3 linked regions of the Homo sapiens genome follow. The protein of the gene in region 1 interacts with the protein of each later gene in a pairwise test. Each region holds a gene or a part of one and is shown on either strand. Other genes may lie near its edges.

Region 1 (10,960 bases):
AAAACAACTCATAACTTTTGTTACATAAAAGTTGAACCAAACTGGTCTGGTGCAGCTACATAATATCCCATATTCTGGAGATGATTACTTCCTAATGGTGTTCATCTTATACCAGTATCTACTGTATTTCCTGTAAGCAGGAAGTTAGGTTAAATATTTTTGGAAAGAATTCTACTTAGGAGGCACATGTCTGGTAGTCCCATTATTGGTGATGTTTGATCACTTGGTTATGGTGGTAATTGTTTGATCTTTCCATTATAAATGCATAATTTCCCTTTTGTAATTAGTAAATAATCAGTGGGGCAATACTTGGGAGTCTGTGTGAATACCTTGTTCCCAGAAACTTTTTTCCCAATAGTTTTAGCATTCATTAGTAATCCTTATCTTGGTTAATTGGTTAATTATTACATTTGAGTTTCCAAAAGGGTAATTGTCTAATCTAACATTCCTCTTACAGTTATCACTCTGTAAAGATGAGCTTTTCTTTTTCTCTCTTTGTTTTCTTATGTTTTGTTTGAGATTGACTATGGACCATGATTTTCAAAAAATTATTATATTATAATCAATTATAATTATAGATTACAAATATTTATTTTACATTAACATTTAATACATTTATTATATATTTATATATTATGTTAAACATATTTATTATATAGTACTATATATTAATATACTTGTTAATATATTTAATATATAAACATATTTTAAATATAATCATATATTAAGCATATATACTTAACTATATACCTAATTATGTTGAAGTTAATTATACATTTAAGTATATAATTATCTCAAATATACTTAAATACAATTATACTTAAAATGTAATTAAATCGTAATTAACATTATTTTTTATTTGCAGATTGTCCCAAATTTGGCCAATGAAAAAGTCCTTCAAGGCCAGGTGTGGTAGCTCATGCCTATAATCCCAGCATTTTGGGAGGCTGAGGCAGATGGATCACCAGAGGTCAAGAGTTTGAGACCAGCCTGGCCAACATGGTGAAACCCTGTCTCTACTGGAAAAAAAAAAAAAAAATTAGCCGGGTGTGGTGGCAAGTACCTATAACTCAGCAGGCTGAGGCAGGAGAATCACTTGAACCTGGGAGGCAGAGGTTGCAGTCAGCTGAGATCATGCCACTGCACTCCAGCCTGGGAGAAAGAGCAAGACTCTGTTTCAAAAAAAAAAAAAGAAAAAAAAAAAAAAGTCCTTCAAGTTGACTTCTATATCTTTTTTTTAAAAAAAACAGCTTTATTGAGATCTAATTTCCCTACCATACAGTTCACCCATTTACAGTACACAGTTCTATGGTTTTAGTTTATTCAGAGTTGTGCAAGCATCATCACAGTCAATTTTAGAACAATCAAATTTAGTTCATTACCCCTAAAAGAAACTGTTACCCATTAGTGGTCACTTCCTATTCCCCTCAACTCTTGCAGCCCTAGGTAACTGCTAATCCACCGTCTCCATAGATTTGCCTATTCTGGATGTGTCATACGAATGGAATCATCTATGTGGTCTTCTGTGACTGGCTTCTTTCACTTGGCATGTTTTCATGGTTCACCCACATTGTATAAAAATGTCCGTCTACATTCTGTAGCATTGATTTTACTGCCATTTTAACATTCCATATTATGGATATACTGTATTTTACTTACCCATTCATCAGTTGATGGGTATTTGGGTTGTTTCCACTTTTTGGCTCTTGTGAATAATGCTGCAATAACCAATCATGTACAAGTTTTTGTATGAACATACGTTTTAATTTACCTTGCATACATATATAGGAGTGGAACTGCTGGGTCATATGGTAACTTTATGCTTAATCTTTTGAGAAACTTCCAGACTGCTTTCCAAAGGGGCTGTATTATTTGACATACTTTTTCTTTTTCCTTTCTTTTGAGACAAGGTCTCACCCTGTTGCTCAAGCTGGAGTGCAGTGGCACGATCACAGCTCACTGCAACCTTGACCTGCTGGGCCCTAGCGATCCTACCATGTTAGCCTCCCAAAGAGTTGGAATTACAGGTGTGAGCCACTGTGCCCAGCCTCCATTTGACATTCTTACCAGCCATGTATGAGAGTTCCAGTTTCTCCACATCTTCATCAACACGTTACCTTTTTTATTATAGCCATCCTAGTGGCTATAATTGTGGTTTTGATTTGCATTTCACTGAGGCTAATGATACTGACTCAGTGTTTCTCAAGGTACCTTTGGTCCCAAAAATTCATGTTTTATTTTATATCCAGAAAACTATCTTCAGTTATAGCTTTCTTTCATTGTTATGTTTCTTTTCTTTGGAGACTTCAATGATGCATATGTTAACTTCTGTCTATCTTCTATATCTCTCACTTTTTTTCTAATATTTTTCCTTCTTTTCCAAATTTGTTTTGGGTTCTCTTGGCTGTTTTAAATTTATTTTCAATGTTCCTTCTTGACTTTTAAGGCTAACCTATTTTCCCGTGGACACAATGTAATTTAGTTTCCATATCTCAAGATTATTTTGGCTTTTTCTTCTACTTCTTTCCTGAATTTCATCAGTTCTCATTTTATAGTTTTCTGCTTTGTGTCCATTTCTATTTTGAGTTTTTTAATGTCTGATTTTTGGTATTCTTTATAGCTACAGCTGCTTACTAAATGATATTTAATTCATATGAAGAATACTGTTAGTTTTCCTCTGCTTTTTGGCTGTTGGATGGAATTGTGGTTGGTGGAAAGAATTTTCATTAGTTAAAATGGTTTTTAATTTTTTTCTTGTAGTTACTTTATATGGATGTTGGTTGCTGTTCTGTTTAGTTCAAAATACCTCGGATCTGACCAGGTGTGGTGGCTCACACCTGTAATCCCAGCAATTTGGGAGACCAAGGCAGGTGGATCAACTGAGGTCAGGAGTTCAAGAACAGCCTTACCAACATGATGAAACCATCTCTTCTAAAAATACAAAAATTACCCAGGCGTGGTGGTGGGTGACTCTAATCCCAGGTACTTGGGAGGCTGAAGCAGGAGAATCCCTTGAACCTGGGAGGTGGAGGTTGCAGTGGGCCAAGATCGTGCTACTGCACTCCAGCCCCAGCTGGGTGACAGAGTGAGACACTGTCTCAAAAACAAAACAAAAACAAAAACAAAACAACCTGTCAATATCACTGGGGAAAGAGTTTGTCAAACTCCAAGGCAATTTTCAGTGAGAATGACACTAAGTTTCAGACTTCAGGGCAATAGGAATGATGTCAGACTTCAATTACATTCCCCATGAAGAACCAGACAGCTAGAGTGTCGCTATGTACTTTTAAAAGATGACTGAGGATGGAGACAAGTGAGTTGGCAGACAGTGGCAACCTCTGGAAGACAGAATCTTCTCTGCTGGTTCCCAGGCTGCTGCTCCGAAAGTCCCAAAACACGCACCTGGCCTCTCCTGCATTCCCACTGGCTGCACCTTGCTCCTGCCCAGAATGAAATCTGGCTCCTGGCCACCAAGCAAGAAGCCACCAGCTGACCAAAATTTTTAATTAAAAAAAAAAAATTAGTTCAAGTGCCCACTGGGAGACAAAACTCTGAACCAATGACCAATAGTTTCTTCCACAGCAGAATATCATTGCTGGTAACAATGGGTGTGGTATTTCTCAAATCATACCTAATGATTCTTCTCAAAATTTATACTTTGCTTTTCCTCAAACCAGCTGGTTTAGATATTTTAGTACAATGCTTTCACCAGAACCTACAACAATGGTTCCTATTAACTGAGAACTGAAATTGATGTGGTCTCCTCATGCCACAGGTCACATGTTGTTTGGTGACTGATTTTGACTCTCAGGAGGAAGTGGGGTTGCTGTTACACCACGGAGGCAAGAGGAGCAGTAATAGAACACAGGAGATCTCCTGAGGCACCTCATCACTCTCATGCCAGGGCACAAGTTGATGGCAATGTACTGTACCACCTACAGACAAACTACAGACAACCTACCTACAGGCAACCTCCTCAAGAACAAAAGCTTGCTTAACCCAACCAGGCAAAGAATCCTGGCCAGCTGAGGGGTTGCGTGAAGGAAAGAGGGACCTGGAATGGTTAGCGGAGAAGGAAAATTGTAAATGACAATAAAGCTTCATTACCAGTTACAAAAATGAAGATCGTAACCTCTAACAGTATTTCCCTTCTTGCTGTATTATATATAAATGGAGTTTTTAGCTATTGTCCTTTTCTTTCATTTCCTTTCTTTTCACAATTGTATCTAAAGTCTATCAGTGATGCTTAACTTTACAATTTAGTCTACACATTACAACGATGGGATGGGATGATGATGAAACTGAAAGGAAGAATGGAACATCACCTACAGAAGTTAGACTTGGGCCAAATACAGTAAATGAGGAGATTTTGAGATGCCCTGCTTTGGGGAAGGGATAAGTAAATTTTGTTATAGGAGAGATGCTCGCATTTTGTTGGATGGCAGCATTTTCATTTACCTTTGAAAGCACTTCTGTGAATGTTGGGCAGCCTAAGAGACGGACTATAGTGAAGCAACTTTTGGCAACCCAGCGTCTCATTCTTCTTATTTGAGGGGAGGCCCCCACACACTGAGTCTTGGTATGAGGCTAGGCCTCCCAGACTAGAAGCCACAGTAGAAACCAGAACTCTCTTTGCCTATTGGCAATCAGAACACAGGCACATAACCTAGACTAGGCCAAGTAAATGGTCCTTCCCAAAACTTGAATCTTAAGTGAGAAGAGTTGAAAAATAATTCATGTCACCACCAAAGGAGCTGGTACGCACCCTAATCAGAGTACCAAAGCAGGATGGCTTAGCTGGTTCCTAACATTTCCAGGCCTGGTTCTCCAGCATTGCTGCTGCAAGGAGTATAACTACAGACAGCTCTAGGCCTACTTTTCCCGCGCTCAGAAACACCAAAAGAAAGAGCCTCTTTCTCCCAGCCTCATTCTCTAAAATCCCCGACAAGGGCTCAGATCATCTCAGGTTTGGTCATGTGCGCATCCCTGGGGAAATCTGAAAACAAGAGGAGGGAGACTACAGCTGGTCAGGCCTGGGTTCCACACCTCCCCTTCTCCACACCCATCCTGCCTTGGGAGACCGGAGAAGTGCGGTGCTAAAGAACCATCTGACCCAGCGGACTGCAGACAATTCCCAAAGGAAAGTTTTCCCGTCAGGCAAAAACAAAAGCTGCTCACAACACAAAATTACAGAACATCAGAACCAAAAGGAACCTTGGGACTCCTTCATCCTATCCCCTCTCTTTATAGATGAGGAAACCATACAGGATATGTACGCCTGTTTGGACTTTGTACAGTTCTCTGTCCAGCAGGGGTGACTTGGCTGTGGGATTAGGTGACTCCACTGGAGGTCTTCTGTGTATAGAAAAGATCAAGGGTCACAAACACAAATGCCTTCAGGTAGGCAGCAAATGTGTGAAGGCTGGCTGTTACTTAATGGACCAGTGGTGGTGGTGGGATTCAAATTCTTATTAAAAAACAAAAGCAAACAAACAAAGAAAAGCTATGCGATGCCCAAATAAAACCATCTGTGGGCTAGCTGCTGCTGTTGTCCAAAGTTTGTGGCCCCTGGGTTAGACAAAACCTCTGAGCTGTCCTGACAGGTCTGGGAAAACCAAACAAGTCCTTGTCTCCTAAACTACCTGGGACTCAAGAGCTCTGTAGGAAAAAATTTGTACCCTGCACCCAGCTGGGGTTGACATTTACAGACGCCTGTTTTATGAACTGGGGAGATATTCAGTTGAAGCCAGATTGCTGAAAGTGCTGCTGAGAGAAAATCATCAGAAGGGAGGGCCTCTTCCCCACGCCACCCTGGTGGTAGTTCCTCTATGCCTCCGGATTCTGCTAAGCAGTAAAAGCTAAAGGGCAGTGTCATTAAGCTCCTAGGGGATGGGATGCAGTGGCTCACACCTGTAATTCCAGCACTTTGGGAGGCCGAGGCGGGAGGATCGTCTGAGTCCAGGAGTTCAAGCCCAGCCTGGGCAACACAGCAAGACCCCATCTTTGCAAAATAGATAGATAGATAGAGATGTATGAAAGTTACTAGGTCCCATGCTGGCAGGGGAGAGAGTGAGCACCCTGGCCTCCCACAAGCTGCCTCCCACTTCCCTCCGACTCCATCACCGATTTCCCATCAGAGCAGGCTGCTCAGAGTGGCTAAGTAGCTACCAGTTCATTTTCCACACCCTTCCCATTCTCCACGAGCCAGAGCTCCACCTCCCCCCAGAAGCTGTCTTCAACCACCCGGCCTGGGGAGCTCCCCTCAGCACTGGCTCCCCGCCCCGCCTCGCAGCACCTGTTCGGGCCTCGGTCGCGCCGCCGGGTCTTGCAGACGCGAATGTAAACAGAAACACAGTGAAAGGCGTTCGGAGAGCCTCGTGACTGCGGCACGGCGGCGAGCCGGGAACATCAGTGCGTCCAGAGCAAAATGAACGAATGTACGCATGACTCCTGGAGCGACCTTCACGAGGGAAAGCGCGCCCCCCGGCACCCACCCCTAAGCGCCCCAAAATGACCAGCCTTTACACAACCCAGCTCGCAGGCGAAGCTGAGGTCGGAGCTCCAAAAGCGAGGGAGGACAGCCGCTGAAGAAGTCCCGGCTTCCCATAGGCCAGGACGAAGTAGGGGGCGGGCTCATCTTGCAGGAGCGTCCACGTATTGGTGGAGCCGCGGACTTAGAGCTGCGATTCGCTGCGCGAAATTGCCGAAAGCCCTCCCGCGGAGGGAGAAGGGGCGGGAAGAAGGGCGTGGTCAGCGCGGCCGAAGGGCGTGGTTGGCGCTCGGTCCTGCCCTGCGCGTTTTGGGCTGCGGTTGGAGGGCCGCAGTTGCAGTCAGGGTCCGCCAGCTCGGGGCCAGCGCATGGGGCTGCTGAGACCGCTCCGGACGTGCGAAGCGTTCGCGGTGCGGTAGGTAGGCAGTGTCCCGCGTGCGGGTGCTGGTGTCGGGGGTGCCGCGGCGCTGGGGGCGGTGGCCCGGGCTAGATCCGCGCGCGCGCCCGGCCCCCTCCCCCGCGTCTCTTCGGTGCCTGCGGGGCCCTTGCGGTGCGGGCCGTCTGGCCTCGCGTCCCCGCCGGCAAGGGCACAAAGGCTCCCTGGGGGGCGGGGGCGCCTCGTGCCTTCGCCTCCATCTTGCGAGCGGAACGGCGTGTGCTGTGGCGGCCGAGGGGTCGGGGCCGAGGCGGGCGGCTGGGCTTGGGAATGCCCGGGCGCGGCGAGGGAGTGCGCGAGTCCGCGCATCTGGCGGCCGAGCAGCTGCGCCGCTGGTCGGCCTGGGCCCCGGGGGAGGTCACTTTCCCTCAGGCCTCTCCCGGGCGTGGGCTGTTTACCCAGCTCCCCAGTCGGGGCTAATGCAGCTCGGGCCTTTCCCCCTGGAAAGATGGAGACCAGTGATGTCTTCTTATCGCCGCGCCCAGATGCGGAGAGAAAAAATCAAGATGTCTCATTTTTTTTGCCTCGGAGGGCTACCCTTTCTAACTGTCATCACTAGAACAGTTCTCAGCAGCCTGGGGACGAATGTCCAAAACCTGTTCCAGGCCCTTGATGATTAGTAGGTTGGGTTTAGTGTATTGTTTGTAACAAAAATGAGCGGAAGCCTGCCAGGGCAGATTGGACCTCACTGGGAATTCATCAGGACCACGAAGGGAGGTAGCGTTTGTAAATAATCTAACAGTTCTCAGATCTAGGGTATGAAGAGTGTTGTGTTAAAGTGTGTAACAAAGGTTGTTGGGTCAGTTTGCCTTGGGTTTAGTTGAAAGATCTAGAAGTCACCACTTTTTACTTTGTTCCCTCCATTCCCCTTTCCCACCCTCTGTTGAGTCAATTCTGGCCCACTTAGAAAACAACAACAACAAAAAACCCAAGGAATTCAGTTTAACCTCTTTTGCGCAAAGCTTTTTAAAGCACTTCCCCACCCTGCGACTGATAACTCCTCCCTTTTTTGGGCTACCTTCTGCAGCCTCTGTTTTTACTCATCACACTGTATTGTGGTTTCCCCAGCCCCTAGCACAATGCTTGGAACATAAAAGGCACTCAATGATGGAAGGAAGCCAAAAGGAAACAAAATCAGCGTGGTAGTCTAAAGGTGACACAACAGAAACATTTATTTAACTTCTTGAGCGAGTTATTCTTACAGGTTAGGAAGGCAGCTAAGCTCAGGCTCTCTAAGTCAAACAGGCTTTAGCTCTGCCATGTTACTAACTCTGATTAATTTTTTTTTTAATGGTGATGGGGGTCTTGCCATGTTGTCCAGGCTGGTCTTGAACTCCTGGGCTCAAGCAATCCTCCTGCCTCTGCCTCCCAGAGTGCTGGGATTACAGGCGTGTCATTAAGTTATTTAACTTCTCCGTGCCTTGGTTTCCTCATCCTTAAAAATGGGAATAATAGTAGTACCTGTGTGGTGAGTTATTAGGATTAAATAAGATATTGATGTATAGTGCCTAATATAGTTCCTGGCACAAAGAAAATGATCAGTAGCTGTTAGCTGTTAGCAGTCGTTAGGAGAAAAATAAATGGATACTTGAATACACTCACCAATATGAAATATCTGTATAGTACTTGACCCTTCAGGATCTCTCTGTTTTTTGGTCCTTATCCGATCCCTTTTTTTGAGACAGGGTCTCACTCCATCACCCAGGCTGGAGTACAGTGGCATGATCTCAACTCACTGTGGCCTCAACCTCCTGGGGTCGAGTCCCTCTCACCTCAGCCTCCCAAGTAGCTGGGATCACAGGTGCACATCACCAGGCCCAGCTAATTTTCTATTTTGTTGTAGAGATGACGTCTCTCTATATTGCCCAGGCTTGTCTTGAACTCCTGGGCTCAAGCGATTACTGGCATGAGCCACGGTGCCTGACACCTTATCCGATGGCTGATTTTTTTCCTTTTTTTTTTTTTTTTTTTTTTTTTTGAGAGGGAGTTTCACTCTTCTTGGCCAGGCTGGAGTGCAATGGCACAGTCTCAGCTCACTGCAACCTCTTCCTCCCGGGTTCAAGCAATTCTCCTACCTCAGCCTTCCGAGTAGCTAGGATTACAGGCACCCACCACCGTGTTCCGCTAATTTTTGTATTTTTGGTAGAGACAGGGTTTCGCCATGTTGTCCAGCCTGGTCTTGAACTCCTGACCTCAGGTGATCCACCCACTTCAGCCTCCCAAAGTGCTGGGATTACAGGCGTGAGCCACCATGCCCAGCCTGATGTCTGATTTTTAAACATCCCTTTAGCCTTTCCTGATTCTCTTTCCACAGTGAAAGTATTCCGTAGAAGATTATCTGTTTATGTGTCTGGAGTCTCACCACCAACTAAAGATTGATTTGGTGCCAAATAGCAATTTGGCCAAGAGTTACAGTAGTACTTGATACATTCTTAACGGGGTCTGTTATCTGAAATGGTCATGTAAAATCAGAGGAGCTAAATAGATGGGGGCCTCATGTGGCTGACAAAAAATCTTTACCTGGTTGATCCATCCAGAAAGAAGCAGAGCTTATGGAGGTGGACTCTCCTTATAACTTAAATCTGTTCTCATGAAGAAACTGTCTCCTATCTTTAATGTTGTTCACCAACATCATGAAAAGCCCAAGAAATGTTCCTGTTGGCTTTAGACCTGTCTGCCAGCTAGAAGTGTCAGATACAACTCCTGGGGGACACTGCGTCACTTCCAGGTTTTCCTGCACCACTTTCTGGTTACAGGAAACAGGTTAAGTTGCACATTTCCTTGTAGCTGTAAGCTCCCTTGGCATATTGGTTTCTCTTAAATTATTTCCAGTTTCCAAAACAAATACCTTTCCCCTCCTCACTTGTAACTGGCACAGGAGAAATTCAGGTCTGTGATTCTGTTTTTAACATAGCCATCATGAATCTCAAATTCTTTCTAGGGAATACTATTATTTCTGGGGACTCCCTTTCAGCTGTGGTATTCTATAATTAGCCATTAAAAACCTGCCACAAGGTGTAAGCCTTTTCTAATGTCCTGTTGCAAAGGCCTTGAAGACAAGGGCCATAAATTTTCTTCTTGTGTGTGGCTGGCATATAGGCACCCAAGGAATGGTTGTAAAGCTATTTTAGTTGTTCCTTCTCAGGGTGCTGAAACAGCCTTACTTACCAACCCAGTGCTTCTGAAACATTTTTCTTACCAAGTCATCTGGAGATATTGCTAAAATGCAGGTTCTCATTCCAAGGTTCTGGGGCAGGACCTGAGAATCTGCATTCCCAACGAGCTCTGAGGTGATGCAGATGCTGCTGGTGCTGGATCACACTTTGATAGTGAAGTGCTAACCCTAGTATCTACATTTGCTTTTTAGAAGTATTGGGTAAATGGGTTTTATTTTCTTATGGTATTGGAATAAAATCTTGGGTTTAGGAGCTTTTTTCTATTTTTTGTTTTAACAATTTCTCTATCTTGTTAAAAAAAAACTATTTGAGGAATTGTTCCAACATACTTTGATGTAATAAGATTTTTAATAACAGCAATTGAGGCACATGGAGTGAAAAAAAAATAGGAGAAAGTCAAGGAAGAAATTAGCACAAAAAGGCAAGTACCTCTCTGTCCTATGCCTTTTACTCAGGTGAGATTGTGTATTTGGCCCTGAGCTTTGTAGCAGCCAAAGCAAAGAGGGAAATTTTTTTTTATCAGTTTTGCCAGTACTTATAAAGTGAAAATGTCTGCTGAATGGAGACAGCTGTTTCTGTTATTGAGGCCAGAGAATTCTCCCATGGCTTCTCCAAAGAGAATGCTATGGTACAGTGAGTGGCAATCTTAATAGTATCTCTTGAGAGCGGTAAGATTCTTCTCAGTCTTCATACGTGCAGCCTGATGACCTCACAAAAAAGTGTCAGGGCCGGGCACAGTGGCCCATACCTGTAATCCCAGCATTTTGGGAGGCCAAGGAGGGAGGATTGCTTGAGTTCAGGAGTTTGAGACCAGTCCGGGCAACATAGCGAGGCCTCGTCTCTTAAAAAAAAATAAAT
Region 2 (10,666 bases), on another chromosome or scaffold:
ACATTTAGAGCTACCTTCGTATGCTGGCTCCAGTATTTTAACGTGATATATGCGTTGTGATTATGACCGTCTTCAGTGCGCACCCCTTGATTCCAGTTTATTTAGTGCATTTAGGGAATGAGCAGAAGCTGCGTATAATCAGAATTGTCCTCGAAATTCCTTCGCGTGCCTGTAGAGTACAGAGACAACGGCCGGTGCCGCACACAGTAAGGCACGCGACGGGGAGCAGAATGTGCAGCGGGCATTCCTAGCCCGCAGCTGGGAGGCTGCTTTTGCTAAATGCATGGTGTTGTTCATCGGTGGTAAATGCATAGGAAGGTGTTGTTGACAGCGTCCAAACCAAAGCCACAGGTTCATCCGGTTCCTTTGTTTTTTTTCTGTAGGCCAGATTTGCATTTGAGTCCAGAGTAATTGTGAGGTAGTTCCAGAGAAACCTGGAGTTGTTATGAAACCCTCAGTTTTTTGGAAGAACATATTAGTCTATAACAAATAGTTTTAAAATTGTTAGAGCACAAATGGATTAGAATTTTTCTATTTTTTGTCATTACCAGGAATGTTATCTTAAGAGAATAGAGTTTGGAGCTATATTGACATACATCTCAATCCTAATTTTCCACTTACTGTTTTTATGGGTTTAGAAAGATGTTTAATATCTCAGTTTCAATTTTCCTGTCTTTAAAGTGGAAACAATCGTATTTCCTTACATGGCTGAGGATTATGTTTCATGGCACAAGTAAACTCACTTCGATGCCTGGTGTCACCGAGTGGCAGTGGCAGAGACGCCTCATCACCAGCGTCACCACGAGCAGTGTTGGGATGGAAGGGGAGCGTGCCCGGCTCACCGCTTTGTTGGTGCAGATTCTCTGCCTAGGTTTCTTACTTTCCTCCTGGAGTCAGAATGACACCTAAAATCTAATGCACCTTCAGGAAAATCAAACAAATCAAAGTTGTTTAAATATTAACAAAATAACATTTAAAGGGTGGTGAAAGCATCATTCTGTAGATGTCCTTGCATGGAAAATGACTGCATTAGAGCTTCGTCCCACGATCAGACGTGGAGCACAAGGTGTGCACCAGGGCCCAGTGGCAGCCAAGGTGGGTGTGGAGTGCATCCGGCACCAGCAGTTTGCTTCTATGGCTGCTTTGTTTTTCACGCTATGGAGTCTTCACTCCAAGAATGCATTCAGGATGTAACGTGCCCTGAAGTAGGGACATTCGGAAGTGGATACATTTAATTTGCCTCTGAAATGTCCTCTCTCTTCAGGTCATATATACCAGAAGTTCTGAGATTGAAGAGCTGAAAGCCACTATTGAAAATCTGCAAGAGAATCAGAAACGATTACAAAAGGAGAAAGCAGAGGAAATTGAACAACTCCATGAAGTCATTGAGAAGCTGCAGCACGAGCTGTCCCTCATGGGGCCTGTGGTGCACGAAGTCAGCGACAGTCAGGCTGGCAGTCTGCAGAGCGAGCTGCTCTGCTCCCAGGCCGGGGGCCCTCGTGGGCAGGCCCTACAGGGCGAGCTCGAGGCTGCGCTGGAAGCCAAGGAGGCCCTGAGCCGGCTGCTGGCTGACCAGGAGCGCAGGCACAGCCAGGCCCTGGAGGCCCTGCAGCAGCGCCTCCAGGGCGCAGAGGAGGCTGCGGAGCTACAGCTGGCTGAGCTGGAGCGCAATGTAGCCCTCAGGGAGGCTGAGGTCGAAGACATGGCCTCCCGGATCCAGGAGTTCGAAGCGGCCCTGAAAGCAAAGGAAGCGACGATTGCCGAGAGAAATTTAGAAATCGACGCTCTGAACCAGCGGAAGGCGGCCCACTCTGCCGAGCTGGAGGCCGTCCTGTTGGCCTTGGCCCGCATCCGCCGCGCCCTGGAGCAGCAGCCCCTGGCAGCCGGGGCGGCGCCTCCCGAGCTGCAGTGGCTCCGAGCGCAGTGTGCCCGCCTCAGCCGCCAGCTGCAGGTGCTGCACCAGCGGTTCCTGAGGTGCCAGGTGGAGCTGGACAGGCGGCAGGCCCGCAGAGCCACAGCTCACACACGGGTGCCCGGGGCCCACCCACAGCCTCGCATGGATGGTGGCGCCAAGGCCCAGGTCACCGGCGACGTGGAGGCCTCCCATGATGCTGCTTTGGAGCCGGTTGTCCCTGACCCACAGGTGGGCTCCCCCCGCGGGCCATGGCAGGGTATTTTTTTTTACTCTCCTTTTCTCCTTTGATGTCAATGACTTCTCTCTGCGCTGGGCACTGGGGGCTGCAGTTGTCATGGTGGCTCATGACACAGCGGAGAAAGGGGGCCTGAAGCTCGGGCCAGCCTGGGCCTGTTCCGTGTCAGTACGCAGTGAAGCTGGGCTGAGGATTTCACTGTTTTGTACCATTTTAAGCTTATCGTTTTAAGCTTTTAAAAACAATTCTTTCTTTCACATAATAGGGACTGTCCAGTGAAACGGAGCTCACTATGTGAGGAGGGTCCGCTTAAGCTGCTTCTCTGGTTTCTAACCAAATGGTTTGTCTGTCGATGAGCAGTGCCTGTGTGAGATGTGGCGAGCGAGCTCTTCTTTTGGAGCTGGAGGCCCTGTAGGGAGTCGTCTTTTAAGGCTTCCACTTGTATTTGAGCAGAACCTTGGGAACTTGGTGCCTACCACCCCCACACCAGCTGGGTCTTTGTAGAGTGGCTCCCACTCTCAGATGCCCCAGTCCACCTTGCTCTGTGGGGTCGTCCTGGGTCGGGGCAGCTTTCTGCTGGGTCCTCAGCCCCGTTCCCATGTGGCCTGCTGTGGACCAAGGTGCTCGGCTGTGGATGTCACTGCCACCTCCCTCTGGCATCCCTGCTGGCTGCCGTACTGGTTCCCAGCTCCAGGCCACCTGAGGGGCAGCCCCAGCAACAGCCTCCTGCATGCTCAGCTTTCCTCTGTCTCCTCTGTCAAGGGTGATCTGCAGCCTGTCCTGGTGACGTTGAAGGATGCACCTCTCTGCAAGCAAGAAGGCGTGATGTCAGTGCTCACCGTCTGCCAGAGGCAGCTGCAGTCGGAGCTGCTCTTGGTGAAAAATGAAATGCGCCTGAGTCTGGAGGACGGCGGCAAGGTGTGGGGAGGGGGGAAGGCGCGAGGTCCCCCCGGGAGAGGCTGGACACGCGGCAGCAAGGTGTGGGGAGCGGGGAAGGCACGAGGCCCACCCGGGAGAGGCTGGACACGCGGCAGCAAGGTGTGGGGAGCGGGGAAGGCACGAGGCCCACCCGGGAGAGGCTGGACACGCGGCAGCAAGGTGTGGGGAGCGGGGAAGGCACGAGGCCCACCCGGGAGAGGCTGGACACGCAGCAGCAAGGTGTGGGGAGGGGGAAGGCGTGAGGCCCCCCTGGGAGAGGCTGGACACGCGGCAGCAAGGTGTGGGGAACGGGGAAGGCACGAGGCCCACCCGGGAGAGGCTGGACACGCGGCAGCAAGGTGTGGGGAGGGGGGAAGGCGTGAGGCCCCCCTGGGAGAGGCTGGGTGCAGAACATGTGGGTCTTGCCCTGGGCAGAGGCGGGTATTCTGCTGAGGTGAGGAGCACAGTCCGTGCCTGCAGTGACATGTTCTCTGAATCCTTTCTGTTCTGTAACGAGCTGTCCATAACTGTTGTGAAATTTCGTACGTGCTTCATTTAAGCCACTCTGTAGAAACAATCAGTTGGGTTTTTTTCTTGTAATTGATCCAAATGGATTTAACTGTGCTCGAGGGTTAGTCCTGGTTTGTCTTTTCATGGGAGGACCACATCGCCCCCGTGGGCCTCACCTCAGCTCAGGACTTTGATGGCCAGCGTCTGTTTTACTTTGAAAGGCCTCAGATTTATTCTTGTAATCTGTTCACCTCACTCCATATTGTCACTTGAAAAAAAGCTGGCACTTCTTTTCCCCGGGGAAGGAGGTTGCACCTTGACCATCTCAAATTGTAGCAGGGTGGAGATTTAGCGAGAAAAGCGGGTGCTGGTGCTTCTCCCACCCAGTGCACCAGGGGCAGGTCCCCAGTGCCCCTAGGAAACACCTGCGCAGGAGCTGCCCTCTCCTCAGGCCGCATCAGGTGCAGATGGCACCTTTATTTTTTTTCTCTCTTTTTTTTTTTTTTTGAGACAGAGTCTTGCTCTGTCGCCCAGGCTGGAGTGCAGTGGCACGATCTCAGCTCACTGCAACCTCTGCCTCCCGAGTTCAAGTGATTCTGCAGCCTCAGCCTCCCGAGTAGCTGGGACTGCAGGCATGCGCCACCACACCCAGCTGATTTTTGTATTTTTAGTAGAGACGGGGTTTCACCATGTTGGCCAGGCTGGTCTTGAACTCTTGACCTTAGGTGATCCACCCTCCTCAGCCTCCCGAAGTGCTGGGATTACAGGCGTGAGCCACCACGCCCAGCCTTAGATGGCACCTTTTGATGCACTGTCTGCACCTCGCCTCCTCCAGTCCAAGGCCCAGCGCAGCCTCCCTGGACACACAGCCACCCACCCTTCTCCTCCTTCTCCTCTGGGACACACATCTGTCCACCCTCCTCCTCCTCCTCCTCCTGGACACAGTCGCCCACCCTCCTCCTCCTGGACACACAGCCGCCCACTCTCCTCTTCCTCCTCCTTCTCGACACACAACCACCCACCCTGCTCCTCCTCCTCCTCCTCCTGGACATGCAGCCGCCCACCCTCCTCCTCCTGGACACGCAGCCGCCCACCCTGCTCCTCCTCCTCCTCCTGGACACACAGCCGCCCACTCTCCTCCTCCTGGACATGCAGCCACCCACCCTGCTCCTCCTCCTCCTCCTGGACACACAGCTGCCCACACTCCTCCTCCTGGACACACAGCTGCCCACCCTCCTCCTCCTGGACACGCAGCCGCCCACCCTCCTCCTGGACACACAGCCGCCCACTCTCCTCCTCCTGGACATGCAGCCGCCCACCCTGCTCCTCCTCCTCCTGGACACACAGACACCTACCCTCCTCCTGCTGGACACACAGCCACCCACCCTGCTCTTCCTCCTCCCCCTCCTCCCTGCTGTTTGCTAAATGTGCCCCAACTACTCCTCCAGGCTCTGAAACCCAGAGGCTCTAACACCAGAAGTGCTGGGCAGGTGTTTTATGGTCTCTAGGGTGGCACGGAAGCATGCTTGGTGCTGAAGCCTGCTGAGACCTGGGCTCACCCGAGCCCCTCGCAGCCCTCGTGAGTGTCCCGCACGTCGCTGGGACGTTTCTTGCATGAGTGCAGGTGCCGCCTGTTCCTGGGTCCACACTGCGTGCACCTCATTGGCGTTTAGAGCCTGAAAGATTCTTAATTCCACAGAAATCAGGGAAGGATGGGCCTAGGCCCGCAGTTCTGAGGAGACCCATGAACCTGGTTCGTGTGCTTGTCATGTGCTCTCGGGAAATACATCCTGTGTGGAGAGCCCTTCGCATCTCCTGCGGCAAACAGTCTTGGGGCCCTCATGACAGGAACGTTTCTTTGAATTTTTTTTTTTTTTTTTTTTTTTTTTTTTTGAGACAGAGTCTCGCTCTGTCGCCCAGGCTGGAGTGCAGTGGCGAGATCTTGAGATCTTGGCTCACTGCAACCTCCACCTCCTGGGTTCAAGCAATTCACTGCCTCAGCCTCCCGAGTAGCTAGGATTACAGGCACCCGCCACCATGCCTGGCTAATTTTTGTATTTTTAGTAGAGACAGGGTTTCACCATTTTGGCCAGGGTGGTCTCGAACTCCTGACCTCGTGATCCACCTGTCTCAGCCTCCCAAAATGCTAGGATTACAGGCGTGAGCCACTGCACCCGGCCCAATTTTTTGAATTCTTAAGAGAAAGCTCAGCCCTGCCTGCCAAATTCTTAGAAGTTACACACACAGAAACTCCAAATTCATCACATAAACCACAATTTTGTGTTTTCGGTGCTCAGATATAGAACCTTCCCATCCTTTTTCCCTTGTATGAAGCTTGTGTCCTCAATCACCGCAGAAATAGGTTATGACAGTTGCCTTTTAAGCAAGGAGATGTAAGCCTTGGTTCTGTTTCTCATAGAATTAAATAAACTTGAAATGTGCAGGGCTCATTGTGGAATCACCCGAGTGCTCCGAAACTCCCTGAAATCCACTCATTAACACCAGACAGGTGCGACTCCTGGTGAGCCAGGTATTCCACCGTGCACCTGTTCTGTTTCACCTGCAGGGTAAAGAAAAAGTACTGGAAGATTGTCAGCTGCCGAAGGTCGATCTCGTAGCTCAGGTGAAACAGCTTCAGGAAAAACTGAACCGTTTGCTGTATTCCATGACCTTCCAGAATGTGGATGCTGCCGACACCAAATCTCTGTGGCCCATGGCCTCAGCACACCTGTTGGAGAGCAGCTGGAGTGATGATTCCTGTGACGGAGAAGAGCCTGACATATCACCCCACATAGACACATGTGATGCCAATACAGCCACGGGGGGTGTAACTGATGTTATCAAAAATCAGGCCATAGACGCGTGTGATGCCAATACAACCCCAGGGGGTGTAACTGATGTTATCAAAAATTGGGATTCCTTGATACCAGATGAAATGCCAGATTCTCCCATTCAAGAAAAATCAGAATGTCAGGACATGTCTCTTTCTTCACCGACCAGCGTACTTGGTGGCTCCCGCCACCAGAGCCACACTGCAGAGGCTGGGCCCCGGAAGAGCCCGGTCGGGATGCTGGACCTGTCTTCCTGGAGCTCCCCTGAGGTCCTCAGGAAGGACTGGACCCTGGAGCCCTGGCCCAGCCTCCCCGTGACACCCCACTCAGGAGCCCTGAGCCTGTGCAGTGCCGACACATCCCTGGGGGACAGGGCGGACACCTCGCTGCCACAGACCCAGGGGCCGGGGCTGCTTTGTTCCCCAGGCGTGTCTGCAGCAGCGCTGGCACTGCAGTGGGCCGAGTCTCCGCCGGCTGACGACCACCATGTGCAGAGGACGGCTGTGGTAGGTGCCTGCTCTGCTCCCAGGCCTGCTGTTCCCGTGGGAATGTGGTCTGCCCGGCGCCACGGCAGCTGCCATTGTTTGTTCACCTCCTGACAGCACACACCTCGCAGTGCTGTGTGGGGCCAGCTCTGCAGGACTGGCATCATGGGCGCATTTAGATTATTTCAGTTGTTCAGGTATTTTTAAAATGCCTGAGATGCATTTGCCTGCCTCAGACATACCCTGGGCATGCTTCTCCACTGACGCTGACTCCAACGGGCATAGCCCAGACACGTCTTCGTGTGTGATGGGCATAGGGTTCTTTGTCCAGAATGGTTTTTTAGATTTATTTTTAGGAATGCTTCCTTTTTTTTTTTTTTTTTTTTTTTTTGTGAGATGGAGTCTCGCTCTGTCACCCAGGCTAGAGTGCAGTGACGCAATCTCGGCTCACTGCAGCCTCCGCCTCCCCAGGTTCAAGCAAATCTCCTGCCTCAGCCTCCCTAGTAGCTGGGACTACAGGCACACGCCACCACACCCGGCTAATTTTTGTAGTTTAGTAGAGACGGGGTTTTACCTTATTGGTCAGGCTGGTCTCGAACTCCTGACCTCATGATCCACCCACCTCAGCCTCCCAAAGTGCTGGGCTTACAGGCGTGAGCCACCATGCTCAGCCAGAAATGCTTCATATTTTTAACAGGTTTCACATATGCTAATTAATTTTAATTTATGAGTTAGATCGTATTATTTCTAACATAATCATTTTGGGATTTTGTGTATCTTGAGTAAGATAAAATTAAAAATCAGGTATGGTTGGGCTCATGCTTGTAGTCTCAGCACTTTGGGAGGCTGAGGCGGGAGGATTGCTTGAGCCCAGGAATTTGAGACCAGGCTGGGTAACACGGTGAGACCCTGTCTCTACAAAAAAAACACAAAAAATTAGCTGGGCGTGCTGGTGCCGCCCATGGTCCCTGCTCTTCAGGAGGCTGAGGCAGGAGGATCACTTGACCTTGGGAGGTTGAGGATGCAGTGAGCCAAGATTGAACCACTGCACTCCAGCCTGGGTGACAGAGTGAGACCCTCCCTCAAAAAATAATAATTTAGCAGATACATATTATCTGAAACATCCATATACTATCATTTCATGCAAAACAATTTAAATCTGAAATATTTACTATTGGCTACATTAAAATATTCCTAAAGAGCTGTGGGTGAATCTGATTAAATTGTTGGAAGCATTCGACCTGTGTGTTCACCAGTTTTGAGTTGTTTCATCTGGGGTCTATGTGGGAAGATAAATTCAGGCCTTTGAAAGTTTTCACCTGGCAAAGTCAGCGCTATGATGTAATTACTCATTATTTTATGACCATTTAAAAATCTCTTAACAGGAGAAAGATGTCGAAGATTTTATCACAACATCCTTTGATTCTCAAGAAACATTAAGTTCACCTCCTCCTGGATTAGAAGGAAAAGCTGATAGAAGTGAGAAAAGTGAGTTGGTTATCTTTCATTTTTAATTTTTTATTTCAGTGGTTTCCTAGCACAGAATAGTCAAAAGAATTCCTGCATCCTTTGCCTGGTTCTGCGTCTGCCCCCCGCTGACCTCCACCCCGGCTCTGCGCTTTGTCGGGCGTGCACCTGGGGCCTCTTGACTTCTGAAAACACGCCTGTACCTTTCACAGAGCCAAGGTTGCTGGCCCGGGCCACGCTCCACCCTGGAATGTTCACCCTGATCCAAGGCTGGCATCTCAGCTACAGCTACAGACCTTGCTCAGATTCACCCATTGTCCCAGTAGTGTCCTTTATGGAAAAGACACCCCAGCTCACAGGCTGTGTTCAGGTGTCTTTGGCAGGATGGAGACTGGGGCGGTGCACGCCATGTTTCCAGGCTCTGCTGCCTTGCCTGCCCACCCTGCCTTTCCCTCCCCTTGGGGTGGACGTCCCTCTCTCTGCTGTGGGTTTCGGGGCACCGGCCCTGGAGAGGAGCCGAGGGGCCGCTGACTGTGGCGTGTCCTCGCGATGGTGCGTGGGGGGCTGCGTCTCCCCGGACCTCGTGGCGGGAGGTGCGTGGGCTTGACTTGGGCCTTTGTCTGTGATGGTGCCTGCCAGGTTTCCTCCACCTCCTTCTGTGGGAGATGCGGAGACTGAGTATTCTCTTCCCTCTCATGCTCACGCCCACTGGTCTCAGCCTCCCTTGGTTGCCCTGGCCCGCATCAGTTGTTGTGGCGGTTACCTGCCACACCGTCCTTTTTTTCATTTCATAACTTTTTCTATAATTGTTGTCTTTTTACAAGTCAGTCACCTTTTGAGGTGCTCTAACTTTTTAAAAAATCTGTTGGATTTTTCAGCGATTTAGTGTTTTTTGAGAACATGGTCACAATTTAATTAGAAATTTTAGTATTTGCAGAGTAGGGCCAGCAGCTTTTTAATTTTGTTTTTATTTATTTGATGAATAGTGAGCACGCAGGGTGACAGTTATGGGTGCTGAGGGGACCGTTTCCTGAGCAGCCTGTGTCCCAGCTCCCCACTCAGGACTGCAGCTCCCTGGGGATGCCACATTCAACTCTCAGAAATGTCTTCTCGTATTTGCTTTATTTTCAAACTCTATTTGCTGTTTAAAGTGGCATCTTCAGCCCTCCTAGCCCCTCGCCACACGCCCCTTGCTACACGAGGTGCAGTCTGCACGCCCTGTGCTGTCACAGCCAAGGTTTGCCCTTAAAGGACGCGCCCCGTGTTCCAGCAGAGCCGCTGGGAGCGTGCGTCCCCCTCGAGCCACTTTTGTTTTTCTTGGCTCAGTTTCTCCTGTGTGCTTCACTGCTGTCCTCGCACACAGTGTCCAGGTGAATGTCATCCAAGCCTTCCAAGCACAGCAGGTGCTTCCCCAACAACTCTCAGGGGCTCCCAGGCGGCCCCTTGCCCCTCCTCAACGGTCTCTTATTTACCGAGACAGGGTCTTGCTCTCTCACGCAGGCTGGAGTGCAGTGGCGTAGTCTCGACTCACTGCAGCCTCCACCTCCCGTACTCAAGTCATCCTCCCACCTTAGCCTCCCAAAGTGCTGGGATTACAGGCATGAGCCACTGCGCCTGGCCAGCCCCCTCTTTTTTAAGGAAACATGTCCCCAGAAGCCTCTGTAGAAAAGGTGTCTGGTAGGTGCTTGTTTTTGAGAACTTCCTCGTCTCCCTGGTGGTTGTCGGTTGGTTGGCTGGGTGCAGACACTTGGGTTGGAAGGTATCGCGTGCCTGTCCACTGCCTCTGTGCCCGCGCCCTCCAGTGACGCACAACCTTTGAGGGGCCTGCGCGGTCAGGGTGTCCGCCGCCTCTGTGCCTGCGCCCTCCAGTGACACGCGACCTTGGAGGCCTGCGCGGTCGGGGTGGAGGATTTCCTCCTCGTTCGTCCTTCCTCCATTCACGTATCCTATGATTTTCTCTCTTCTTTTTGTAATTCCTGTTATTCAACTATATCAGGCCTCCAAGATTGATTGTCAAATTTTCTTTCCTTATTTCTACTTCTTTTATTTTTGTTCTCATTTCTAAGAGGTTTTCTTTAGAACTTTATTTTTCAACATTTGTGCTGAGTGTTCTGTTTCTGTGCTCATATTTTAAATTTCTCAGAAATCTTTCTTATCCTAACTGTTCCTCTCTCCTTTAGCTTTAGCTCCTTGGTTTCTTTCTTTTTTGGAGGGCGTTCTTGAGTTTATTTTGGGCACAGCCAGGTGAGAGGTCCCTGCACCTGAAGGAAGGTGTTGGGCTCCGAGGTGAAGCATGGTTTGTGCT
Region 3 (10,459 bases), on another chromosome or scaffold:
AGGTAGGAATGGAAACTCCAAGAGATTAAGTGACTTGCTTCAGCGTCATATAGCTGGGGAGTGGTGGAGCTGTACTTTGAGCCCCTGCTGTTGCTACCATGGAATATTCATCCTATAAAATGAAGATTTGAATCCAGGGGAACAACAGACATGTAAACAATTAAAATTCCCTGTTGTAAGTACTGGATAGAATATATACAGGATGTTAGGAGAGCACTAGTGAAAATTAATCCACCATGAGTGGGTAAATGGTGTCACAGCACCTACTCTGCGCCAGACACTGGTGGTTAGAGGGAGGAAATGAGTGTGTGGTCAGTACAGGAAGCAAACAAGTAAAGGACCAGTCACTCCAGTGTGCCATGGGCGGTGATGGGGAGACACTGAGCCCCGGGGCACCCAGAGGAGCAGTAGCCATCCTAAAAGAAGTGCCAGGTCAACTTCCTGGAAGAGGTGAAACCTGAGCTGACTTTAGAACAAGGAATGGGTCAGCCAGGCCAAGTTGGAAATGATCATTCCCACTGTCTTCCATTATCTCATTTGAGTCTCACTCTACTGCAATGTGATAGCTGGATCAGGGATGATTATTCCGATTTTACAGATGTGGGACTAAGGCGTTGACTGTAGAGAGACTTTGTCCTGGAATGTGTGGCCTCTGGAGCCATGACCAGAACCTAAGTCTTTGTGAGCTCTTAGCCCCAAGGAAAAGAATCAAAGCAAACCTAATGTTTAAAATTAGGATCTGTTTGGGAAGAACTGTCAAAGTCCTTGTACCTGACATGACTGGTTAATCTTAAAAGTAGGTTAAGTCAGGGAATCAAAAATGATATGTACCTTAAACATTTTAGTTTAACTTAAAACAGATAAATGTACATTCATTTGCCATTCTTTTGATGTAGGGCCAGGGCCTTTTCTTTTGAATATGGGTCTGCTGATTGGAGTTTCACATCTTCTTTCTTTCATAAACTGCATCCATAATGTATGTCTGTCACTTCCAATTTCTGTTTCTTTAAGATGAAGAGAAAACTTAGACACTTGCAAAGCAATTTGAATATAGAATTCTTCTAGACTGTGTTCCTCCCACATCTTTTATAGTTGTCTCACCCACACCTAATTTGCCAGAAATGTGTTTTTTAGTGACTTGCTTTTATCAAGTCTTTCCTGAAGCATATGTTAGTTTTCATACAACCAGTTCTCTCTTTTAATACACATATTTCATGGGCTTACTTAATATTTAATTAAATTATGCAATTTGATTACAAGTACAGCTACCATAAACAAGTTTGGGAACAAACTAAAGTGACTCTTCGTGAGCTGACAACTCACCAGCTCTCCTGTTGGAAGCAGAAGTGTTTCGGCGCAGCAGAGAGCGGCCTGTGCCACGGTGCTTTTCTGACAGAAAGGGAGTGTCCTTCCCCCTGGGAGCTGGTTTGGTGGAGACTGGCTCAGAGGGCTCCGCCGTGCATGTATGTCACCTCAGAGCACTGGGGACTCTGGTTTTGCCACCCATCCAGAGTTTACTCTGGAAAACCAGAAGAGTTTCTTCTAATGGAGCATACTTTCCTAGTAATACTTTTATATGATCTTTTGAAGATTTAAACATTGAAAAGTTTTTAAAATCAGCATTATAGTTTTTGTAAAAGAAAAAGATCACGCAATTTGAAATCATAGCTCATGGAGAGAATTGCTGTTAACATTTTGATGACATCTCAATATACACATCTATGGATGTGGGCGTTTATATTCAGTTTTGTGGAACAGGAATGCCTTTTATACAGGACGTGTTGTTCTGGGCTCTTTTGTCACTAACTGTGATCATTTTTTGATATCAATGCATAGAGCTCTACAACGTCATTTTTAATAGTTGCTAAATTATTGTATTATATGTAAGTACCATAATTTATCCAGATCTATACTGAAATCAGGTTATTTTTTCCTACCATGAACAATGCTGAGACGAACATCCTTGTACATAGGCATCTTCTTGTGCTTATGTTATTATTCCTTGGGGGAAATGCCAGCGTGTAGAATTGCTGGGGCAAAGAGTTAAGCGCATCTCAGTTTGGTAGATCTTGCCAGGGCGTTCTCACTGGGCCATGCCATCCCGCACTTCCACCAGAGGTCACGAGGTGCTTTCCCCTTACCCTCAATGAGTTTTGTCCAATTTTGCCTTTTCCTGGTTGTCAGGAAAAGGCTTCTAGTTTCCATTCAAATATTTTTGCTAGTGAGGTTGAGCATCATCTTTTTATATGGCTTTGTAATTCTTCCTGTGTAACATGATGTTTATGTTCTTTGTTCATTTTTCTAATTTCTCTTCTCTTTAGATTGGAGAAATGAAGGCAGAGGTCACCAAACTACATAAAAAATTGTTTGAACAAGAAAAGAAGTTGCAAAACACCATGAAGCTTTTGCAGCTGAGCAAGCGCCAGGAAAAAGTCATCTTTGATCAATGTGAGTGAGTGTGGGGGTGGCCGCTATGCCTGACCACTTCCTGCCTCCGAGGGCTCCCAGTTCTGCCCTGGATTACCCACTTTGGAGCCCAGATGGTTTGTAATCATGCCTCCTATCTGTGGGCTTCTTTTCATACTCCATCCTTTCTGACTCACATAGACAAATGTATTCACTTAACACACCTTTGTAGAGCGGCCTTTTGGTGTCAGGGACTGTCGTCTCACTGGGAGACAGTCGTGTGGCATGTGCAGTGATGGGAACATGCAGAGCACTGGGGTGGGAGTTGGGTGGCCGTCACTCTGTCCCGGCAAGGTGGGCGTCTTAGACAAAGTGACCACCTCGCTGAGTGTGAAATGAAAGCAGACGTCGTCACATGGAGCGGGGAGTGGCAGTCCCTCAGGGAAGAGCATGGACAGAGGCACAAAGGCAGGAAATAAGTTTTTGTATGTGAGAAACCAAAACCAGTCCCTGTGGGGTAAAGGCTGCAAACAGTGAATTAAGGTGGGAGGGATTGGGGGTCAGGGAGTACTTCATGAAAGACTGTAGGTGGCAGGCTCAGGGCAGAGGATTGGCCTGTCACATCTGTGTGCAAGAATGGCTCGCTGGTGGCTGCTCCACCAGTGAGGGGGAGGCTGACTCACTAGTCAGACAGGAAAGGTGGCTAGGACGCTGGGGATCCAGAGGAGGGCATGGATTTGAGAAATACTTCTCAAGGCAGATGCCGAGACTCAGGGTTGGTGAGGTTAAGTAACTTTTGTAAGGTCAGTCCCAGTTCTGATCTAGCCACTTTGGAGATTGTTTGGGAGCAGCTCTGTCTCCTGGTTTAAACCCTCAGCACTCCCTCCCGCTGCATTTAGAGGAGCAGGCGGTAGCTGAGTTTCCATTAGTGCCTGTTGGCAACATGGCCCTGGCCAAGCCTGCGCTGTCTGTGTGTCAGTTTCCCTGTCTTAAGAGAACTGCTGACTGCAGCACTTTTTCTCTGGAGGTGCCAGCCTGCCTTGTGCGGCTCTCCTGTCAAAGTCCAACATTTCTGGGGCATTTCTGAGAAGCACAGGACAGAGATTATTGCCAAGTAGGAGTTCTCCTTAGCCACCCCTGGGAACCTTCTGAAAATAGACTCTGTGAGACTGCCAGTGTTTGGACTGCAAAAGAGAGGAGCGCAGCCACTGAGCAGGCACTGAGTTCCTGTTCTTTGCCCCTTACGCCAGGTCCTGGGGACAGAGATGAACGAGACAGTCTTTGCCAGTGAGGGTCGTGGGCTTAATAGGGGAGACACAGAGCTTAGCTGCAGGACGATGTGCTGAGTGCATCCTAGGAGGCCTGAGAGGTGGTTCAAGACTGACTGGGTCTTGAAGAATGACTAGGAATTTGTCAGCGAAGGGGCAGGAATAGGATTCTGGCAGATGGCCCTGTGGACTTGCTGGTGTGCTCCCAGGGGTGAGAGAGAACTGAGTGCTCAGGGACATGCTTAGGACGTGCAAAGGGTTTTCCTCTGAGAGATGAGTGAGAGGGAGAAGCAGGAACCAGGTTGCAAGGAGCCTTGTGGACAGGACTCCAGGACGAGCAGCAGGGACCGGCGGGGTCCATGCGTGTATTACAAGATCCCATGGCTGAGCTTGGAGGGGCCAGGAGGCCGGGAAGACCTCTTTGGGGGCTGCAGCAGTCCCCCAGGTGGGCAGTGGGTCAGGACTGTGGGGGAGAAGGGATGGTTTTGAAAGATTGTAAGGAGGTCAACCTGGCAGAGTGGTGGATGTCTGTGGGGTTCTGGTTGAGGGTTTCGTGTCACTCGTAGAGAAAAAGAGCACTGAGGGGAACCTGGAGAGAGACAGTGCCAGCTGTGGTCCTGTTAAGGCAGCTGTGGAATATTTAGGTTAGACTCTTGGAGCAGCAGTGGGGTGGGGAGCAATGCTCTGCATAGGTCTAGAGAAAGGCAGAACTCTCTGCATTGGCATCTCTCCTCCTCAGCAGCCTTTGGCCCTGAACAGTCACAGGGCAGGTAGCTAACCCTATTGACAGGTGAGAAAATTGCAGAAGTAGGTTTCGATGGGTTGAGTACTGTGGTCGGTCAAAAGGACAGAACTAGAACCCAGATCCCCTGTGTCCTAGGTCAGAGAACATGGAATTATTGATTGAGCACAGTTCAGATCTCCATTCTCCTATGTGACCTGCATTAGACTAGAACCCTAAGCTTTCGATTCCTCATCTCTAACTGGAGACGTGAGTTCCAAAGGACTCAGACTAACTAGTTGGTCCCGGGTTCAATAGCAACTTTATAAAAAGCACCCCAGTTTTCTCATCTGTAAAATAAGGATGATAACGCTACCTAAACTGTATTGTACTTAGCACAGTCTCGGGGGCAGAGGAGATGCTCAACCAGTCCCTCCTCTTTCTTTCCATTAGGCCAGACCAAATCCTATGCATGGAGGTGGCAAATCATTCATAGTAAGAAGAGCCGCAAATGTCTCATAGCACTTCCCCTCCTGAGCTGGTATTGTCCATCTCCATATCTCCTAGGCCTGGCACAGAGCAGGCTCCGCCAGAGCAGGGTGAGGGGCTTGCTCCAGGCAGCATAGCTGGTGGCTGACCCGGGCCTGCAACTCCTCCTTTGCCAGGCTCTGCAGCTCATCCCAAGGAGTCAGGTCCTTGGAAATTCTCCAAGCCCTGCGGACTTCACAGACCTGCTCTGGGTCTAAAGGGACTAGGAGAAAGTTGGCATAGCACCTCCTCTTCCTCCGTCCCCTCATGGTGATGGGGAAGAGCAAAGGCCAGGGCTGATTGCTACCTGGTCAAACTGACACCATACCTTCTCAGAGTCTACAGGGGAAAGTAAGGAAAAGGCATCCCAGTGGGACCCTAAGAGTCCTGATGCCCTGGGGCCACTCACTGGCCATGTGACCTGGAACCAGCTGCCTCAGGTCCTCATTTGCAAAGCGAGGACAGTAGTTCTGCCCCATAGGGTGGGGGAGTATTCAGTGAGGCCACCGTTGGAAACCACCTGTCACCAGGTCAACACTGCTCAGCTCAGGTCGGTACCTTCTTCCCAGCACTCTGCTGAGGTGGGAAGAACCATGGACTGAGTTGGGCAGGCCCACATGTGAGTCCCAGCTCTGTGCTGGGGCCAGTCTAGATTTGGGACGAGTCCTTTGTCGCTGTGTTCCTCGGTCTTCTCCTTGCAGTGGGGATTTCTGTGCTTTGGAACGTGGCAGTGCTGTTGAGGTGTAGGGGTCCCCTCAAAGCTTGAGCCAAGTGATCCTTAGTTCTTCTGCCATGAGCTTTGTTCTCTAGGGACATGGAGTGCTCTTTCACAATCATCTTCAACCTCCACAGCTGTGATACTTAATCTTTTCTGGGTCTCAGGCCCCTTGGTGAATCTGGAGAAAGCTGTGGTCTCTCTGTGGAAAAATGCGGACGTCCAGATACATACCCCCATTTGCACACAGTGTCGGAGGGTTTAGGACTGACCCCCCAAACATATCCAGGGCCCCATGTCAGGAACTTTGCCCTGCAGCAGGAGGTCAGGTTGGGGTAGAGGGGCAGTGGCCACCTCTGAAAGTCGTTTTGCTTGGCTAAAAACAAAGTCCACACCGTCTGTCCCGTCCCCAGTGTCACAGATTGCAAATAAACTCCATTACCTCCAGATGGAAATTTTCGTGAGGCAAGAAATCAATATTTTCTCAAGGCCACCACACGACAGACACCTATTCTGAAGAAGCCACTGGGGAGTCAGGCTATGTGTGTTGGGCGTTGAGTCTGTTACAGCCTCTGGCACTGTTGGCTAAAGGCGCGGCTCCAGAAGCCTTTGGTATTTCCAACGTGGGGAGTAAGCTGATCTTACTCTCACCAAGCCCTGTTGAGAACAGATTCCCTATCAGGCTCAGAACTCTGATCAAGAGGGGCATTCTTGCCACTGCTGGAGTTTGTGTTGGACAAGAAAAAGCCTGAAGGAAGACCCACCTTTACAGTTGCTCCTGAAAGCCAGGGCTCGCCTGCCCCTCCTGGGAATTCTCATGCACGGGGGATCTTTCTAGTACAGTGCTCCGGGCGTCAGTGTCAGCAGGGACCTCTGAAACCATCCCACCCAACCAGCTCTTGTCCAGGCAGAATGTGACTTGCCCAGAGGAATCAGGCTGGGCTATTCCACCAGCTAAAGGGCAGGCAAAGGAGAAGCAGCATGCCCACGGTTTTTTCTTCCAGGCCATTTGGAGCTGGCTCTAAGAGCTGCTGGGTAAAAACCTGGCTTCGTAGAACTTGGACCCTCATATGTGGGTCTGCCTGATCGGGGCACAGTCCCTTCCCACAGCTGCTTCCCAGAGGGCCTAGGAAACTAAAGAGTGCTGGGCAGGCCCAGGCCTCTACCCTCCCTGCGCCATTGCCCTCCCTGGCCCACAGAAGTGAGCCTGAGGGATACCTGGACAGCCAGGTGGCCGTGCACAGCTGTAGGGTGTTCTCTGAACCGGCATAGCATGCTGTAGCCTCTGCATCACTGTCAGGTGGTGGCTTAGCGGGGCCTCAAAGAGGTGTTGTTGATGCGTTATTTGGCCCTGGGGTTTGTGATGGGTCAGGTGGGCCCTTTGTACCTCCCTCTGGTCTGGATGCTTCAGACCTCGTGTTGTCTACATGTCCGAGCCCTTTGGGGTGGGGTTCATCCTCCCTGCACTTGGCTTTCACACAGCTCTCCTGGATATCCATGGCCCTAATCATTGCATTCTTTGCTCTCTCCTCAGTGGTCGTAACCCACAAAATCCTTCGGAAGGCCAGAGGAAACCTGGAGGTATGCCCTTTGAGTCTTTTCACTGCAGGCCAGTGGAAGGTCAGGAGGAGTGCAGGGCCAGAAAGGACCTCTTGAAAAATGAAGGTGCAGGTGGAACCAGGGGACATGTCCTCCTCAGAGAGTTGTTTCTGCCAGCAGTGCATGAAAAGTTGTGTTTTATCATGCCCTGTCGCCAGTAGGGGTTCTAAGTTTTAAATTTGTATGCTATTTTTACCAGTAAGAAATACAGCAAACAATGCTTGACACATAGTAGGCATTTGATGAATATTTCTTGAATGAATGAATACAGTATGATCTCATCGTTGTTTATTAGGTAAATATTTACTGACCAAACTATGTTTTTGAAAGCACTTTGAGAATAACAGTCTCGCTTTCACCTCTGTCGGGGTCTTACTTCAGAAACCTCCTTTGGACTTAAAATTCTCCTTTTTTTTCTTCCTTTTCCTAGCTTAGGCCTGGGGGAGCCCATCCAGGAACATGCAGTCCCAGCAGACCAGGCTCCTGAGAAGAACTTTCAGCCAATAAAGCTTGTGCTTCCCCCACCGAGCTCACGCTGTCTCTTTGTTCCAAGTGTGGTTCCTATTTATTGAGGAAGAAAGAGCTGTCTGGCCAAAGGAAATCTATTTTTTCCCTTCATGTTTTCTCTCTGAAAGTTGGCTTGAGAGTTGTTGTCAGAAAGGTGCAGGTGCTCCACAAACGGGTGGTAAAAAGGCCTCGAGCTCTTGGATGTTGTATTTCAGATCAGGGGCAGGCACCGGAGTTGAGGCTGTGCGCCTTGGTGGGCTTCACGTCTTCCCCTGGATTTGCTTAGTACTCAGCCAGTGCCACAGTTTGAAGATTCTCATTAAATGATTCATTTCATTTCACCTTGACGATTCTGTTGTTTTGTGTGGCGCCTCAAAGCCCAGGTCCCAAAATCCCAAGTGGGACAGGCCAGGGTTCCACGAGTCGCATGGCTCACTGCTGAGCTCGTTCAAGTGTCCAGAGAAGAGCACCTCCGTGCAGCGTGGCCATGGGCACTGGTGTGTGCTCAGCATCTCACAGTCTGCTGGACAGCAGCCCTTGCAGTGGTGCCATTCCCGATTTAGCAAAGAGCAGAGTGAGGCCCAGAGCTGGAATGTGGCATTTGCATTGTTCCCGTGATGACAGGGGTGTGTCATCAGCCATCCACATCGCTGCCTCTGACCAAGATGCCCCCAGCCAAAACACTTTAGCGGCTTCCCACTACCCTCTGATCCAAGCCCGAGCCCCTAACAAGGTTTACAAGCCTTGCTGGCACCTCCAGCTCCTTGCCCATCTCGCCTCCTCCCGCTCCACTCTGTGTTCCAGGCAAACGGAACAGTGTTCTCCCCAGTCTAACCCAGGCTGCGCCCTCTTGGACATGCTCCTCCCACCCTTTCTTTTTCTAGTTAGCTTTGAATGGTCCTTTAGAAATATTTTTTCTGCCCTTGGGGAAGCCTCTCCTGACCCGATACTAGGTGAAATGCCCCACCTCTGCTCCCGCAGCCCCCACACCACTGTGCAAATCCTCTGAGCCCCTGGAGAGCAGAGGCTTGTGTTGACCATGGAATTGCCAGCACCTGACCTGGCGCCCAGCTCCCCAGACACGATGGTGAGGGGAGGAGACGGGATTGCACTTGCTGGAAGCGTAGGGTGCAGCAGCCCCGGCTGGGAGTCCGGGGAGTGGCCTCATGCCACTTTGCCTGTCTCCCCATCCATTAAGAGAGGGGCGGAGGAAGTGGGCAGTACAGACCCTTTCTGCTTCGGTTCCTGCCATCTGTGCTCTTCCTGAGAAATATTTGCACAGGTGTACCTCGGTAGAATACGTACCAGTGTGTGAAAACTCAGATTGAGCCATAATGTCACTGGAGTGCCTTTCGCAAGCAGTCACAACAGTTGACTTCCTAAATGGAAGCTGGGTCGGTGTGGCGCTGTGGAGCAGGAGGCCTGGTTCCCGTCCCGAGTCTTGTGCTTCTGTAAATGAGAGTTACTCTTGTCCAGTACTGTTACAGAGTTCGGAGCCTCAGATTTTGAAAGCAGCTGAACAACAAGGCCCTTTCCACAAATCGGTGACTCTTCTTCACTGTCTCAGTGGCTGGTCTTAAGCAAGTTTTAAAGTACTGTTTTAAGTTCTATGGCTGTGTTGTGCCAAACCCCTATTAACCTCAGTAGGGGAGGCACCAGGTTCAAGGGGCCTGAGAAGAGACCCACAGAGCCAGCAAACAGGATGTGGGCTTTATTAGGGGCTTACATACAGGGGAACAGTCCAGAGGCGGCAGGCTGGACAGGAGAACTGCTTTTCGTACAGAAACAGATGGTTCAGTGGCAGCGGCTGAACAACACAGCCCACGGCCCAGGTGGGGCAGGAAAACCATCACCACTTATAAACAGCATGCAGTTTATATAGCATTTTCACTTAACCTTCCCCCAAGGACCTCTACCTGGGAACCTTTTTTTAACCCAAAACTCAGGGCCTCAGTTCCCTGTACAGCCCATGTCCCATGAGACGGGCTTGGGGGCTCAGATACTCCTCACAAACAAGGAACAAATCTCCGGGTTGGCCACTCCTAGATTCTCTAGCTCAGAACAACATTAAGACGCGTCTGCCATACAGGGTCGTTCTAAGGTTGTGCTTAAGCTATTGCTGTCAGGGTGTTTACCCTCCAGGCAGGTGTGCGCAAATGTAAGCATGTGTGGTTGCGGGGGCAGTGGGGAGGAGGGGAGGAGGTTGTACAGTGTAGTAGATGCAGCTCAGGCAAGGCCTGGAAGTCAGACCTGGGCTCAGATGTCCCCACAGGGGAAGAGTCCTACCTTGCCTGGCACATGGTCAGTGCACAGCCCATGGGAGCTGAACTTGGTCATTGGCAAGGGCTTGAGGTGCAGGGATTGGAGGAGAGATCCACATTGGATTCTGGTACATCCCAGGCCCGTCTGGTTGGTGAACCCAGGCACGCCTGGAGCAGGAGCTGCAGAGGAGGGGCTCCAGGAGCCCAGCTGGCCATTTGCTTCAGGTCACCCACAGCTTTTCAGGAACACAATAATCTAAAACGAAGTGCATTTTTATCCGCCAGTTTAGAGTCACGTAAAATACTTTCAACCTTGGGCTAGTGAAGGCCCTCCCTCTTCTGGGAGGTGGAGGAGCAGCCTGGTTTGTTTGGGCTGGATTAATGCCAAGAACAAACTGCAAATAAGACAATTTGGACCTTGGAAAAAGCTCCATTGTCCCTGGTGAGTTAATTT

The links.
Region 2: the proteins of CEP68 (region 1) and PCNT interact in binary tests that used the Homo sapiens proteins (3 or more experiments, as listed by UniProt).
Region 3: the proteins of CEP68 (region 1) and CDK5RAP2 interact in binary tests that used the Homo sapiens proteins (3 or more experiments, as listed by UniProt).

What each region holds. Positions count from the first base shown.
Region 1 is NC_000002.12:65,049,620-65,060,579, forward strand, and holds the start of CEP68 (centrosomal protein of 68 kDa), read left to right. Parts: upstream 1-6,796; 5' UTR 6,797-6,909; intron 6,910-10,960. UniProt on the Homo sapiens protein: Involved in maintenance of centrosome cohesion, probably as part of a linker structure which prevents centrosome splitting. Required for localization of CDK5RAP2 to the centrosome during interphase. Contributes to CROCC/rootletin filament formation.
Region 2 is NC_000021.9:46,409,925-46,420,590, forward strand, and holds part of PCNT (pericentrin), read left to right. Parts: intron 1-1,264; coding exon 1,265-2,143; intron 2,144-2,912; coding exon 2,913-3,068; intron 3,069-6,144; coding exon 6,145-6,915; intron 6,916-8,279; coding exon 8,280-8,382; intron 8,383-10,666. UniProt on the Homo sapiens protein: Integral component of the filamentous matrix of the centrosome involved in the initial establishment of organized microtubule arrays in both mitosis and meiosis. Plays a role, together with DISC1, in the microtubule network formation.
Region 3 is NC_000009.12:120,386,501-120,396,959, reverse strand, and holds the end of CDK5RAP2 (CDK5 regulatory subunit-associated protein 2), read left to right. Parts: intron 1-2,321; coding exon 2,322-2,448; intron 2,449-7,172; coding exon 7,173-7,219; intron 7,220-7,667; coding exon 7,668-7,724; 3' UTR 7,725-8,085; downstream 8,086-10,459. UniProt on the Homo sapiens protein: Potential regulator of CDK5 activity via its interaction with CDK5R1. Negative regulator of centriole disengagement (licensing) which maintains centriole engagement and cohesion. Involved in regulation of mitotic spindle orientation.